Homo sapiens: one gene and its partner. The protein of the gene in region 2 purifies or fractionates together with the protein of the main gene of each other region. This does not show direct contact. Each region holds a gene or a part of one and is shown on either strand. Other genes may lie near its edges.

What was found.
Region 1: the proteins of PNO1 (region 2) and UTP14A purify together in Homo sapiens (affinity purification with mass spectrometry; 3 studies listed by BioGRID and IntAct, with this or other methods). This does not show direct contact.

Annotation. Positions count from the first base shown.
Region 1 is NC_000023.11:129,923,140-129,930,166, forward strand, and holds the end of UTP14A (U3 small nucleolar RNA-associated protein 14 homolog A), read left to right. Parts: intron 1-1,655; coding exon 1,656-2,056; intron 2,057-2,779; coding exon 2,780-2,973; intron 2,974-3,100; coding exon 3,101-3,200; intron 3,201-6,196; coding exon 6,197-6,469; 3' UTR 6,470-6,613; downstream 6,614-7,027. UniProt on the Homo sapiens protein: May be required for ribosome biogenesis.
Region 2 is NC_000002.12:68,167,872-68,174,898, forward strand, and holds part of PNO1 (RNA-binding protein PNO1), read left to right. Parts: intron 1-5,475; coding exon 5,476-5,546; intron 5,547-6,863; coding exon 6,864-6,931; 3' UTR 6,932-7,027. UniProt on the Homo sapiens protein: Part of the small subunit (SSU) processome, first precursor of the small eukaryotic ribosomal subunit.

The sequences.
Region 1 (7,027 bases), on a different chromosome or scaffold from region 2:
AAATAAACGTACATGTGTCCAAAGGCCAGATCTAAGGAGCTACAATGGCTTCATGCCAAAGCTAGACAGCAGGATCAACTTGGGAATGGAGGCAACTTGAGTCAATGAAAAAGACAGTTTAGAAGCATGTCACTGCCAGGTTTCCCTCCAGACTGTTTTGAGACAGGTCTCTGTCATACAGGCTGGAGTGCAGTGGTGCAACCTCGGCTCACTGCAAGCTCCACCTCCCAGGTTCAAGCAATCCTCCTGCCTCAGCCTGCAAGTAGCTGGGATTACAGGCATATGCCACCACGCCCAGCTAATTTTTGTATTTTTAGTAGAGACAGGGTTTTGCCATGTTGGTCAGGCTGGTCTCAAACTCCTGGCTTCAAGTGAATCACCCATTTCGGCCTCCCAGAGTGCTGGGATTACAGGTGTGAGCCACTGTGCCAAGCCAGCCCCTCCAGACTCTTGAGACTAGTGTTATTTGCTCAGATGTTGCCAGTGAAAGTGTGAGCTACATCCACTGGATAAAGCAGCTACTTCATCCCTTGACTCAGCCACAGCAGATTATGAAATACTGCTTTAAGATATGGAGTAGAAATTCTTGAGTCAAGATGAAAATCCTGGATAGGGTTTTTACAAGCAGTGAAGCATAAATTACAATGAAGTTACATTGAGAAGCCACCTGTTAAAGTGGCTTCCTTTTTTAAAATTTGGAACTTGGGGCAATCTTCCCAAGCAGGGTTTACTGCACGAGGAACTTAAGCCACAGTCCCAGTTATACAGTGGATCATTGGCAAAGCTGGGAATAGGACCCAGGACGTCTGCTTCCAATATGCTACTTTTTTTTTTTTTTTGAGACGTCTTGCCCTGTTGCCCAGGCTAGTATGCAGTGGCACAGTCACAGCTTCCTGCAGCCTTGACCTTCTGGCTCCAGCAATCCTCCCAGCTTAGCCTCCCAAGTAGGTGGGACTACAGATCCACACCGCCATGCCTGGAAATTTTTTGTTGTTGTTGGAGGGGTGGAGGTGGTAGAGATGAGTTCTCACTATGTTGTTCAGGCTGGTCTCGAACTCCTGGGCTCAAGCTATCCTGCCCCCTTGGCCTCCCAAAGTGCTGGCATACAGGCGTGAGCCACCATATCCAACATCTCACATGCTACTTTTTTTTTTTTTTTTTTTTTGAGACGGAGTCTCGCTCTGTCACCTAGGCTGGAGTGCAGTGGCACAATCTCGGCTCACTGCAACCTCTGCCTCCCTGGTTCAAGTGATTCTCCTGCCTCAGCCTCCTGAGTAGCTGGACTACAGGCACATGCCACCATGCCCAGCTAATTTTTTGTATTTTTAGTAGAGATGGGGTTTCACCGTGTTAGCCAGGATGGTCTCGATCTCCTGACCTCATGATCTGCCCGCCTCGGCCTCCCAAAGTGCTGGGATTACAGGTGTGAGCCACCGCACCTGGCCACATGCTACTTTTAATTACCAAACTCCGTTGCCTGCTATGATTAGTGTACTGTCTAGGAGATTCAATGTACAGAATCTTCTTTTCCCCGTTTGTCCTTTTTATAATGTCTTATGTGGTACCTAGCACTTGGTGGGTGCTCAACAAATGCTTACCGACCAGACAACGTACAAACCTCATTTTCTGACAGTTTTCATTCTTTTTTCCCCCAGATTCTGGCAGCCAGGAGGTGCTGTCTGAATTGAGAGTACTATCTCAGAAATTGAAGGAAAACCATCAGTCCAGGAAGCAAAAAGCAAGTTCAGAGGGGACTATTCCCCAGGTCCAGAGAGAGGAACCTGCCCCAGAAGAAGAGGAGCCCCTGTTGCTACAGAGACCAGAGAGAGTACAGACGCTGGAAGAGCTAGAAGAGCTGGGAAAAGAAGAATGTTTTCAAAATAAGGAGCTTCCCAGACCTGTGTTAGAAGGGCAGCAGTCAGAGAGGACCCCAAATAATCGCCCTGATGCCCCTAAGGAGAAGAAAAAGAAGGAGCAAATGATCGACCTACAGAACCTCCTAACCACACAATCTCCCTCCGTGAAGTCTTTGGCAGTTCCCACAATAGAGGAGCTGGTGAGCAGAGCCAGGGTGGTGGGCCATTGTTCAGAAAGTGTCGTTCTTGCGCAAGGAGTAATGAAGCTTTGTTTTGCTGGGGGCACATTTCAGTAGTTTAGAGGTCCAGAATAGTATAGGGCCAGGCTAGTCCCAGTGACGTTTTAATAGATGCAGATATATGGGTGCTGCCAAGACCCCTATTTCCGAAAGCCTGATCCACAAAAACTCCTCTGGGGTGACTCTAAAACTGCTCTCAGAGGTAAGAGGGAGTAACTCAGAGTTCTGACCAGATCCCAGGCAGGACAACTTGAAGGTGAGTCATTGAACTGTTGCGAAAGTTTTATTCAGTGGGATCTCAGATGGTCTAAGACTCCCCAGTTAATCTGAAACTTAAAGTGAAGCGTCCTGGCACCTGTCTTTTCAGGGATATAAGCTGGAGGAAGCCTACAGTCTGGCCACTTAGAGCTCCTGCTGCTAACACGGGCCATTCCTTCCTCCACCCTGCAGCTTCCTTACTGAAAAGTTTAAAATTGTGTCATATGATAATGAGCTAGGGATATTTACCCTAGAGGGAAGAAAATTTGAGCATGATTGGCTGTGCACTGGTTTGTATCGCAAGACCATCATTGTTCAGCACTTCCCCCTAGGGGGCGCTAAAATGTCACGACCCGAAATTCAAGCGTTCTCGCCATGAACCACAGCTCATAAGCCAAGCTGTAGCTCTCGCTTGTTTCTTCCCAGGAAGATGAAGAGGAGAGAAACCATAGGCAGATGATAAAGGAAGCTTTTGCTGGGGATGATGTCATCAGAGATTTCTTGAAAGAGAAGAGGGAAGCTGTGGAGGCGAGTAAGCCAAAGGACGTGGACCTGACACTACCTGGCTGGGGCGAGTGGGGTGGTGTGGGCCTAAAGCCCAGTGCCAAGAAAAGACGCCGGTAAGAATGCCGAAGAAAGTCTGTCAAAAGGGCACCGGGTTCTCCCCTCGCCCTTCGGTGTCCTCCCTACCCTTTTGACTAAGTCCTTAATGCTCCTAGTCAGATGTCCTGTTGTTTTGCTTTCCAGGTTTCTCATTAAAGCCCCTGAGGGTCCTCCAAGAAAAGATAAGAATTTGCCAAATGTGATTATCAATGAGAAGCGCAACATCCACGCAGCTGCTCATCAGGTGAGAGCTTAGAGAGCTCTTTAGCTGCCTGCTTGTTACTGCCTGGCTCTCTTGCTTGAGAGGAGTATTCTAGTGATCTGTAGTCAAGAGAGACGTGTGATCTTGACCGCAGAATCAAATCTGTTGTTTTCACTGAATGGCTGTTAGATTTATCATTTCAGATAGACTACGCTGTTTTAATTACTGGCCAGGAAAAAAGTTTAGAGTCAAGGTAATGCTCAAACAGAGGCTATAAGGTTTAAGCTGTAGCTTAAGAAAAATGAAGACAAACCGGTACTTGTTCAGGAGAATGAGAAGATTGTAAGTTGTGTCACATGATAATGAGCTAGGGATGTTTACAAGAGAAGAAAATTTGAGCGTGATTACGGTGTTCAAGTATATCGAAGGTTATTGTATGAAGTCACATAAAGTAGAAGTTAGAGGACATACAGAATTCAAGGCTGCTCTGGGAGTATGAGAATGTGTAAAGGGGACTCAAGAACGAGATTGGACTAGATGACCTTTATGTTCCCTTCAATTCTGAGATCTGTCCCCAGCCAGTATATTGAAATGAGTTACATTTTTCCCTCGGAAGGAATAAAGAATTAATGGCTACAGAACAGAGGTAAGAAGATACACATTTCAATAACATTCTTTTTGATCTTATTTTGTGAACCAATCACTGCAGAAACTGAATCATAACTACTGCAGTCCCAATTAAACCTATATAACTAGAAAATAGGCAGTTACACGATAAGGGAAGGGGGGAAAGGGTGCTTCAGTGGGCCAGGATTCCAGGTGATGGGTAGAGTATGGAGCTCAATAAAGACCACCCTTCCCTTCCAGGGGTCTGTTTGTTTTTTTAATACAGTCATGGCAAACTGACAAATAGTTTTCTAGGAATCTCCCCTGATTTTCATCTTTTTAATAAGTTACTGCAGGTTCCAACATGCAGTAGAATAAAGTGCTTCAAGGTGCCTAGGGGGGACTTCTGAGACTGAATACTTTGTCCAGGTGTTCTCTTTTTCTGTTGCCCTGGTTGACAAGCACAGATGTAGCCGTCAACCCAAATAAGACATTCCCTTAACTTAAAGAGAATCTGTTTCCTTTGCTACTACCAGGACCACCTGATAGTACTTAGCTTCTCTTGAGTATTCCACTGAATGTTTCCAGAGACTACTGATTTTTGTTTGTTTGTTTTGTTTTCAGATGGAGTCTCACTCTGTCACCCAGGCTGGAATGCAGTGGCACGATCCCAGCTCACTGCAACCTCCACCTCCCAAGTTCAAGCTATTCTCGTGTCTCAGCCTCCTGAGTAGCTGGGATTACAGGCATGCGCCACCACACCCAGCTTATTTTTGTATTATTAGCAGAGACAGGGTTTCACCATGTTGGCCAGGCTGGTCTTGAACTCCTGACCTCAAGTGATCTGCCTGCCTCGGTCTCCCAAAGTGCTGGGATTACAGGTGTGAGCCACCGTACCCTGCCAAAGACTACTGATTTTTACATCCCCATTTTCTGCTTACGTGTTTTCCTCCTTTGGCCACTGGGGAAGTGTTGAAAGATTATTTAATGTCTGAAGGTAGCAATGTGGTGGAGGAGTACCAGGCAAGGAAACAGGAGCTTTGGGTTCTGTTCTCCAATGCTGCTCCTCATTTACTTAGGTCCATCACTTCCCCCCTCTAAGCCAAATCTTCAGGCCAAGGGAGATGACCATTGTCAATATCTAGGGCCTTCCAGCTCTACATTCTGTGGTGCCAAAAGAAGATGAAGCTAAGTGGGCCGGGCATGGTGGTTCACACCTGTAATCCCAGCACTTTGGGAGGCCAAGGCGGGTGGATCACAAGGTCAGGAGATCGAGACCATCCTAACACAGTGAAACCCCATCTCTACTAAAAAAAAAAATACAAAAAAAAATTAGCCAGGCATGGTGGCAGGCCCCTGTAGTCCCAGCTACTAGGGAGGCTGAGGCAGGAGAATGGTGTGAACCTGGGAGGCGGAGCTTGCAGTGAGCCGAGATCACGCCACTGCACTCCAGCCTGGGAGACAGAGCGAGACTCCATCTCAAAAAAAAAAAAAAAAAAAAAAAAAAGATGAAACTAAGTGTAACGGCCTGGTAGAGTTCAGGATTCGGGTTCCTTAAAACATCAATCCTGGCCAGGCGCGGTGGCTCACGCCTGTAATCCCAGCACTTTGGGAGGCTGAGGCGGGTGGATCACGAGGTCAGGAGATCAAGACATCCTGGCTAACACGGTGAAACCCCGTCTCTACTAAAAATACAAAAAATTAGCCGGGCGTGGTGGTGGGCACCTGTAGTCCCAGCTACTCGGGAGGCTGAGGCAGGAGAATGGCGTGAACCCAGGAGGCAGAGCTTGCAGTGAGCGGAGATCGTGCCACTGCACTCCAGCCTGGGCGACAGAGCGAGACTCCGTCTCAAAAAACAAAAAAAAAATATCAATCCTAAGAGAGGGAAGGAGGAGACTGAAAGCATAAAGAGGGTAGAAAAGTCATAAAATCCACAGGGATACACAATGGTCTGGATTCTTGCAGTCACAGTGTTACATAGGAAAGCTCACTCTGGGACAACAGCCCTGGAGCTCCTGTAGCTAGATAGGGACAGTGTCACTTGTAATCCCAGCTACTTGGTAGGCAGAGGTTGCAGTGAGCAGAGATCACCCCACTGCACTCCAGCCTGGGCCACAGAGTGAGACTCTGTCTCAAAAAAAAGAAAAACAAAGATGGGCAGTGTCAGGGTGGTTTTTCAGACCCTGAATTGTTGAATAGATGGGGGATCCAGAGCCAACTCAGGCCCCCCTACTCCCAAATGTCATCAAACAGATTGAATTCCTAAGGGCAGATGGGAGCAATGGGACGCCTTGACCTCTCAGTCTCTTCACTTGCAGTCATCATGTGGAACCGTGGCCTGTACCAAAACAGTACCTGATGAAAGCTGCCATTACAGTATACAACTGCACCCCAGGCCTGCCTCATACCAAATCATTCTCCTTCCTTTCCAGGTACGAGTGCTTCCATATCCATTTACCCACCATTGGCAATTTGAAAGGACCATCCAGACCCCCATAGGATCCACATGGAACACCCAGAGGGCTTTCCAAAAGCTGACTACTCCCAAGGTCGTCACCAAGCCAGGCCATATCATTAACCCCATAAAAGCAGAAGACGTGGGCTACCGGTCTTCCTCAAGGTCGGACCTGTCTGTCATACAGAGGAATCCAAAACGAATCACCACACGTCACAAAAAACAGCTGAAGAAATGCTCTGTAGATTGAGTTGCTGGAGGAGTGACAGCCAGGAGCCCTGACTTCACTTCCTTTGGTCCAGTTTTACTCTGATACAGGGTGGATTCCAAAACTGGCTCAGTACATTGCATGTAGTTAAGCCACATTTTAAAAATAAAGGCATTTTTTAATCTATTTACCTGGAGTATATGTTGCATTGTCCCCCAGTGGGATCATTTCGTTCAAGTCAGACACCTTTGGACTCTACAGCATTGCATTTCTCGAGTTGCACTTGTCAGGGCCACCTCCTTTTCTTACCAAGGATTATGTAGTTGGTCCTAAATCGAAATGGAGAAAGTTAACTGTAGTCTGTAACCTTAAATATATCACATCAGATATGATCCACCATTAATAACTGCCAACTTGAAGAGACAGGGTTAATAATGATAAAATATTGTATATTTTAACCTCTGAACCTAGAAAGAGGATGTACAAACTGCAATTGGATTCTGCCCTAGACTGATCCTAAGACCAGGACGGTGCCGAAGCTGGGTTCTGTCCCCACAAGTCTAGCCACAGCCATTTTTTTCACATGTGTGAGCTTCCCAG
Region 2 (7,027 bases):
GTCATATAATGACTTAATTTTTTTCTCCATCATATTAGACTCTATAGATGTGTCTTTCTTAGAACAATCCTGCACCCACATAAAAGCTGCATTTCCAATTTGAGATTGTCAAGAAAAGAATCACAAGATCTATAAATTTGGAGAGGAAACTTTATTTCTTAGAAAGGGTTGCAGTCTGCAGGGTGGCCATTCTGACAGGCTGGAAAGTATAGCCTTCAGCAGAGACCAAAAGCAGGCACTCTGAAGGAGGAAAGGATGAGACAGGAATTTATGCTGAATGCGTTGGCCAAGTATACTTATTTAACAGGTTATAGGAGGAGCTCTGAATATAAGAGGGGTCCTAATGCTTGTATACCGAGTAAATGTACAACCCCTGGTCGCTTTGGGGTGGAGACTTAACATTTAAAATACCTGACAATTAGATCCTGTATGTTACAAGATGAAATAGGGACAGGGACATGACAACTGAATGCACTGCCTCTGGAAGCTGGTAGTACCAGTCCATGGTCAGTGATCTCTTATCAGGAGATGTTACTGGGATCAGTCTCTTGTCCAATCAAAGCTGTAGTTACTGTTTGTGGAACAGAGTGTGGGAAGAGGGAAGCTGGGGTCAATCTGTATCTAGCTGTTGGTGAGCTGTAATTGTTTTAATATTGTTTATCACAAGGCCAGTGCTTGTTAAGCTGCTAGAGAAAAAAAAATATCCTGTGGCAATTAGAATGTCATTTACTCTTTAAGTGTAGGGTGTATGACTTAACCCTTGCCCAGGTGGTCTTAGGTCTTGTTTACAATTTGATATCTTATTGCCACAGTCTGTTCTGTCTTGCCTGGGCGCCTAGGGGCTTTATTTTTATTTTATAAGATAAAGGGGTATTTGGCAAAACTGCAGGTGTATTCATATCTGCTGTTATAGCTGCAGTGACAGCTTCATGAATTTCCTTTTCTTTTTTTTACAATGGTCCTATGGTATAGTCATTTATCTTGAAGTGGTGGGCAACTGCAACTGCAGGCCTCAGTCAACAGTACCTATCAAGCAATTCAGCTTTTTTCTTTTTTTTTTTTTTTTTTTTTTTTTGAGATGGAGTCTCCCTCTATCGCCAAGGCTGAAGTGCAGTGGTGCAATCTCGGCTCACTGCAACCTCCACCTCCCGGGTTCAATGGATTCTCCTGCCTCAGCCTCCTGAGTAGCTGCAACTATAGGCATTTGCCACCATGCCCAGCTAATTTTTTTGTATTTTTAGTAGAGATGGGGTTTCACCGTGTTAGGCAGGATGGTCTCAATCTCGTGACCTCGCAGTCCACCCGCCTCGGGCTCCCAAAGTGCTGGGATTACAGGTGTGAGCCACTGCGCCTGGCCAGTTCAGCTTTTTCTTGTACTGTCATGACTTTTCTGTGCTGCTTTGGAGCACTCCCAACATCACTAGTGGCACTTTATGTGGGACCCACGTTGGGTGGGTCCTATGGTCCCAAAGCTTACAATATTGCACTAAGATTAAAAATAGGCAAGAACTGCGAGAAATCACTTTCTACTGTGATAGACAGTTTATTGGAGAGTCAAAACTGCTTATGGGAGATAATCAGCATCACATGTGATCAGCATCACATGGCATTCTAAGTGGATACTTGCAACACCTGAGCTCACCACAAGAGCAATAGGTGGTGGCTGTGAAGTTGTCGTACAGTATGCACTACAGTTAATTTTATGGAGTTATGATTTAATACTGCATCTTTGCATTTGTTTCCATTTCTCTTGACTACAAATGGCATCATATATGGCTTGTGTTTGTGTGCGTAAGTTTTAATTTTAACTTTTTATAATAGATTTGTGTATATTTTACGGTAGTAAATAAGATAGACTAGTACCTACATACAGTTTATGCATTCATGACGTAGCTTTTTCTTAATTTTTTTGACATTTCTACGATACTTAGCTCCTCTCTGGGTTTTTTCACATCTCCAAAATATCTTCCAGTATATGTGTTGAAAAAAATTTGTGTGTAACTGGACCTGTGCAGTTCAAACCTATTATTCAAAAGTCAGCTGTATTACATCTTGTTTATCCAGTCACAGTAGATGGACTTTTGGGTTGTTTTCAGTTTGTGGCTATGAGAATAATGTTGCTACTGAATTACTTATATCTTTTGTGTTTTCTTACAAACTGAATTACAGACTACTTGAAATTAAGAGATGTACTATCTCTTGCTTTTGCTGTAGACAGGCTAGTTGGAAATCCACGTTTAACAGTTTATATTAATTATAATAAAGCTGTTAGATGGGCTGTTGTGTACCTATAAAAGTTATTTTTGATGAGTTGCCAATAACCTGGCAAAATACAGTAAGTATAATGTGAGCCAGATAGAAAACTAAAAACAATTGGTTCCAGGTATGTTTAATACAGCAGATGGGAAATGATGTTGCCTCTGTGTCTTGAAGCCTCCATTCCTTTCCAACTATTGCCCCATTACTTTGGTTCTTTGTGCAGCAAAACTACTCCCATCTGTTCTTGTTGTCTTTATTTCCTCATCTGTCATGCTCTGTTTTAAATAATTTTAATCAAAGTTAAACATACACATAGTTTTAAAAAGCCAAATATTGGCCGGGCGTGATGGCTCACACCTGTAATCCCAGCACTTTGGGAGGCCGAGGCGGGCGGATCACAATGTCAGGAGATCGAGACCATCCTGGCTAACACGGTGAAACCCCGTCTCTACTAAAAATACAAAAAAATTAGTCGGGCGTGGTGGTGGGCACCTGTAGTCCCAGTTACTTGGGAGGCTGAGGCAGGAGAATGGCGAGAATCCGAGAGGCGGAGCTTGCAGTGAGCCGAGATTGCGCCACTGCACTCCAGCCTGGGGGACAGAGCAAGACTCCGTCTCAAAAAAAAAAAAAAAAAAAAAAGCCAAAAATTTCTACTGCCTACCTCCATTTCACCCTTTTCAGGGGAACCAATTTCAACTCTTTTAGCTTATCTTAAAAAATTATTTGTCTCTGTATTTCCAGATATTTTGTTCATATACAGCCTCTTATTTTTCAGATTCACTATTGACTTTCTACCATCAAAGATGAAGATTTAGCTGTCTTTCACCCCCTTACTTCCACTGCACACACTCAGCCTTTCTGTCACTCCGATTTATTCTTCTCTGTCCTCCTGATGGTCCCCTTGTGGTTTTTGTTAGATTCGTGTTCAGTATTACCTGAAAACAGAAATCAGTGCTCAGTGTACTTATAGCTGAGCCAGGTGAAATACTGTGACTGCCTTATCTTTCTTTTGCAGCATTGTTTTCACTTGAGGAAGTAACTCTTATGTGTCTATGTCCTTTCTTCATTTTCGTCGTACTAATTCAGTAAGAAGCTATACGTTGTCTGTATCTCCTCTTGATGTATTCGAATGCATCTAATATTTGAGAAATCTCTCCTGGAGATGTTCTGTTCCAAAAACGCCCCCATGCTTTCTGCGTGCATTCTGGCTGCACAGCCATCATCCTGGGTTCCCTGTCCCCTGCCTCTTGGAGTCTCTTTCCCAGAGTTCTGCTTCTTGATATTCCTGCTGCTGATTTAGGCATCAGTTGACTTCGGTCTGCACAGTCAGTTCCATCTCCTCCATCTGCTTTCCACCTTTTTGGACTTTGCTACTGTTATTACTCTCTTCTTCCTTTTGGGCTTACATCTTTCCTGTCATTTTAGTGGAGTTTGAGGAAGGAGCATTTGTAAATGTTTGTTTTGTTCATCTGCAGGTGTCTGGAGGAAGAGCATTACAGAGGAAGGGGAAAGCACAAAGATCTTGAGTTGAGGGCACATCTGGCAGTGAGCGAGGAGGCTTGACCAAGGATGAAAGGGAGAGAGCGGAGAGTGACAGATGAGTCAAAAATAATAGGGCCTCACTGAGGTCATCATAAGGACTTTGGCTTTTACTCGGAGTGAATAGGAAGTCATTGGATGATTGTGAGCAGAGGAAGGGAGGTGGGATGTGAGGGGGCGAAGGGCAGTGAAGGTGAGTAGGATCCATAGATGGGAGGTCCTGGGGTAGGGGTGAAGGATTATTTGTGTTGATATGAGTGGAATGACAGAAAGTGGTGAAGGGAGAGTTGGATGTTTGAAATCGAAATTATGGGGGGGTTGCAGTTTTTGGTAATGACCAAGTCCAGGGTGTGACCATGGATGGAAGAGGCTGGAGTAGGGTGGAAAACAAGACCCCATGTTGGCATAAAGGATATCAAGGACCTGAGAGGCTGGCATGTTGGGATTATCATCTTCATGGGTATTGACATGATCGAGCATGGTGATGGGGAATAGCAAGAGAAAGCAAGCCAAGAGCTAACATCTTCACAGGTGATCTGTAGGGGCAGCTGAGGACCGCAGCCAGGCAGGGTGGTGGGTGATGTGGCCTCAGAGCAGATCCAAAGCCAAAGGGTTTTTAGGGAGGCAAGAGGGAGAGCATGTGGTCTGGATGTGGCATGAAGACACCTGCTCCTCCCCCAGGCCCAGAGGTACCTGGTTTGTGGAGGAAGAACTGGCCACCATTTGAGATCTGGCCTTAGTTGAAGCCAGAAGGTGAAGGGAATATTAACAGGGGTTGAAGATATAGAAGCTTTAGCTGATTTGTACAGGGCACAGTGAAAACAGTTTGGAAGATGGACTCAAAAAGGCAAAATTGTATCTTGTCAGTTTTGTCATTCAGTAAAGAATGCCCATTAAAAGGGTCTAAATGATCCTCAGAGCCCTGAAGAAATTTAGATAATCTTTAGGAAACTTTGCAGTTGAAAACCAATTATGTTGAAATTGAGTACAGTATTGCATTTATGGGTATTCAGTAACCAGCTCTGCCAGTGTGTCGTCTTGGGCAGGCTTTTTGATTTCTTATAAACTTCTCTCCTCATCCGTAAAACAGGAAGGTCATGTGAGGATTAATGAGGGCATGCATAGAAAGCCCTGGCACATAAAGCACTCATAGGATGGGAGCCATCATTAACCAAGAATCTTCACAAATTTTTCTTTTTCAAACAATTCTTTGTCTTTTCTAATAATTTTTTATTGGGATACAATTCATATACCATAAAATTCACCCTTTTAAAAAGTGGTTTTTAGTATATTCATGGAGTTGTGCAGCCATAACCACTGCCCTCATTAAAGAATCTGACTCAAATATCATGATTTTCCAGCATTTTTGGAGTACAGGACTTAGGTAAGGAAATGCTTTTTTGTCTACAATGTCTTTTTTTTTTTTTTTTTTTTTTTTAAGAGAGAGGGTTTTGGTCTGTCACTCAGGTTGGCATGTTGCACTCTACAGGCACGTGCTACTACACCCAGCTAACTGTTGAATTTTTTTGTAGAGATGGCGTCTCATTATGCTGTCCAGGCTTGTCTCAGACTCCTGGCCACAAATGATCTACCTGCCTTGGCCTTCCAAAGTGCTGGGATTACAGGTGTGAGTCATTGCATCCCAGCCACTAATTTGTCTCATTTTATTTCTTTCAGGAAAGTTCACATCCTTGGCTCCTTCCAAAATATCAAGATGGCAAGAACTGCCATTTGCAACCTAATCTTGGGTAATAGCAGTTTCTTTCTTTGGTGTTTTCTCTGGGAGGGATAGGAAGTTAATTGAGGAAGTCAAAACCACATTTGCAAAGCAATTTAGGGTAATATTAAAGATCGCAAGTAGAAACCCTTGGGAGTTGGCAAAGGTGGGCCTAGAGAAGGAAGTAGAATTTTTTTTTTTTTTTTTTTTTTCTGAGCCAGAGTCTCGCTGTGTCGCCTAGGTTGGAGTGCAGTGGTGCGATCTCGGCTCACTGCAACCTCTGCCTCCCAAGTTCAAGCGATTCTCCTGCCTCAGACTCATGAGTAGCTGAGACTAAAGACGCCTGCCACCTTGCCTGGCTAATTTTTGCATTTTTAGTAGAGACGGGGTTTCACCATATCGGCCAGGCTGGTCTCGAACTCCTGACCTTGTGATCCGTCCACCTCAGCCTCCCAAAGTGCTGGGATTACAGGCGTGAGCCACCACGCCCAGCCAGAAGTAGAAATACTTTTGCTTAGATTCCATTTGTCTGCAAGAGAAGAGAAGGTGTTTATTGGGTAATATTGCTTAAATCTTTGCTGCCTTCTTGATAAGGTGCAGAGAAAAACCATTCCAGAATAGCAGGGAACATCACATTTTAGGTTTAACAAAGGAAGAGCTGCTGAACAGCTTCAGGCAATTTAATTGATCCACTTAACCCATTTTCTTGATCCTGCAGCAAAGTCAGTACTTTCTGATAAGAGTTGCAGGATCTTAGCGGCTTGCTCAGAAAATTGGGATTTTCTGGTTCTCAGGCCTCAGTGATTGGCTTCTTTTTGAAATATTTTAACAACTCAGTGCCTTTCGCTCTTAGAAGTTTAAAATATTTTTTGGAGAATATTTGGGTATTATTTCTGTTAAGGTTTTTTTTTTTTTTTTTTTTTTGTAATTTCCAATTAAAATGTCTCTGTTCTTTTTAGGGTTCTAGACCCTTTTTCACGTACAGTCTGCCCTCTGTCTGCAAGGTCCACATCTGCGGATCGAACCAATGGCAGATCAAATACTCAGAAAAAAAATATATAAAAATAATGGCAAATTAAAAATAATACAAATTTTAAAACACAATACAGTACTATTTACATAGCATTTGCATTGTATTAGGTATTATAAGTAATCTAGAGATGATTTAAAGTATATGGGAGGATGTGGGTAGTTAATGTGCATATTTTTTATGTAAGAGACTTGAGCATCCAAGGATTGTGGTGTCTGTGGGAGTCCTGAAACCAGTCTTCCTTAGACACTGAGGGACAACTGTAGGCGCTATAAATGTGAGTTTATTTGTGTATATACTTTTTTTTCCCCTTTGCAGGAAATCCTCCTTCCAAGGTTTATGGCAATATTCGAGCTGTGGCTAGCAGATCAGCAGATCGATTCTGATTTCAAGTCAGAGACTTTTTATCTTGCCTTTGGACTCTGGTGAAAAATACTTTACAGTGGTCGGTCACAAGAAACCAGCTGAACAATTTCAGTCAT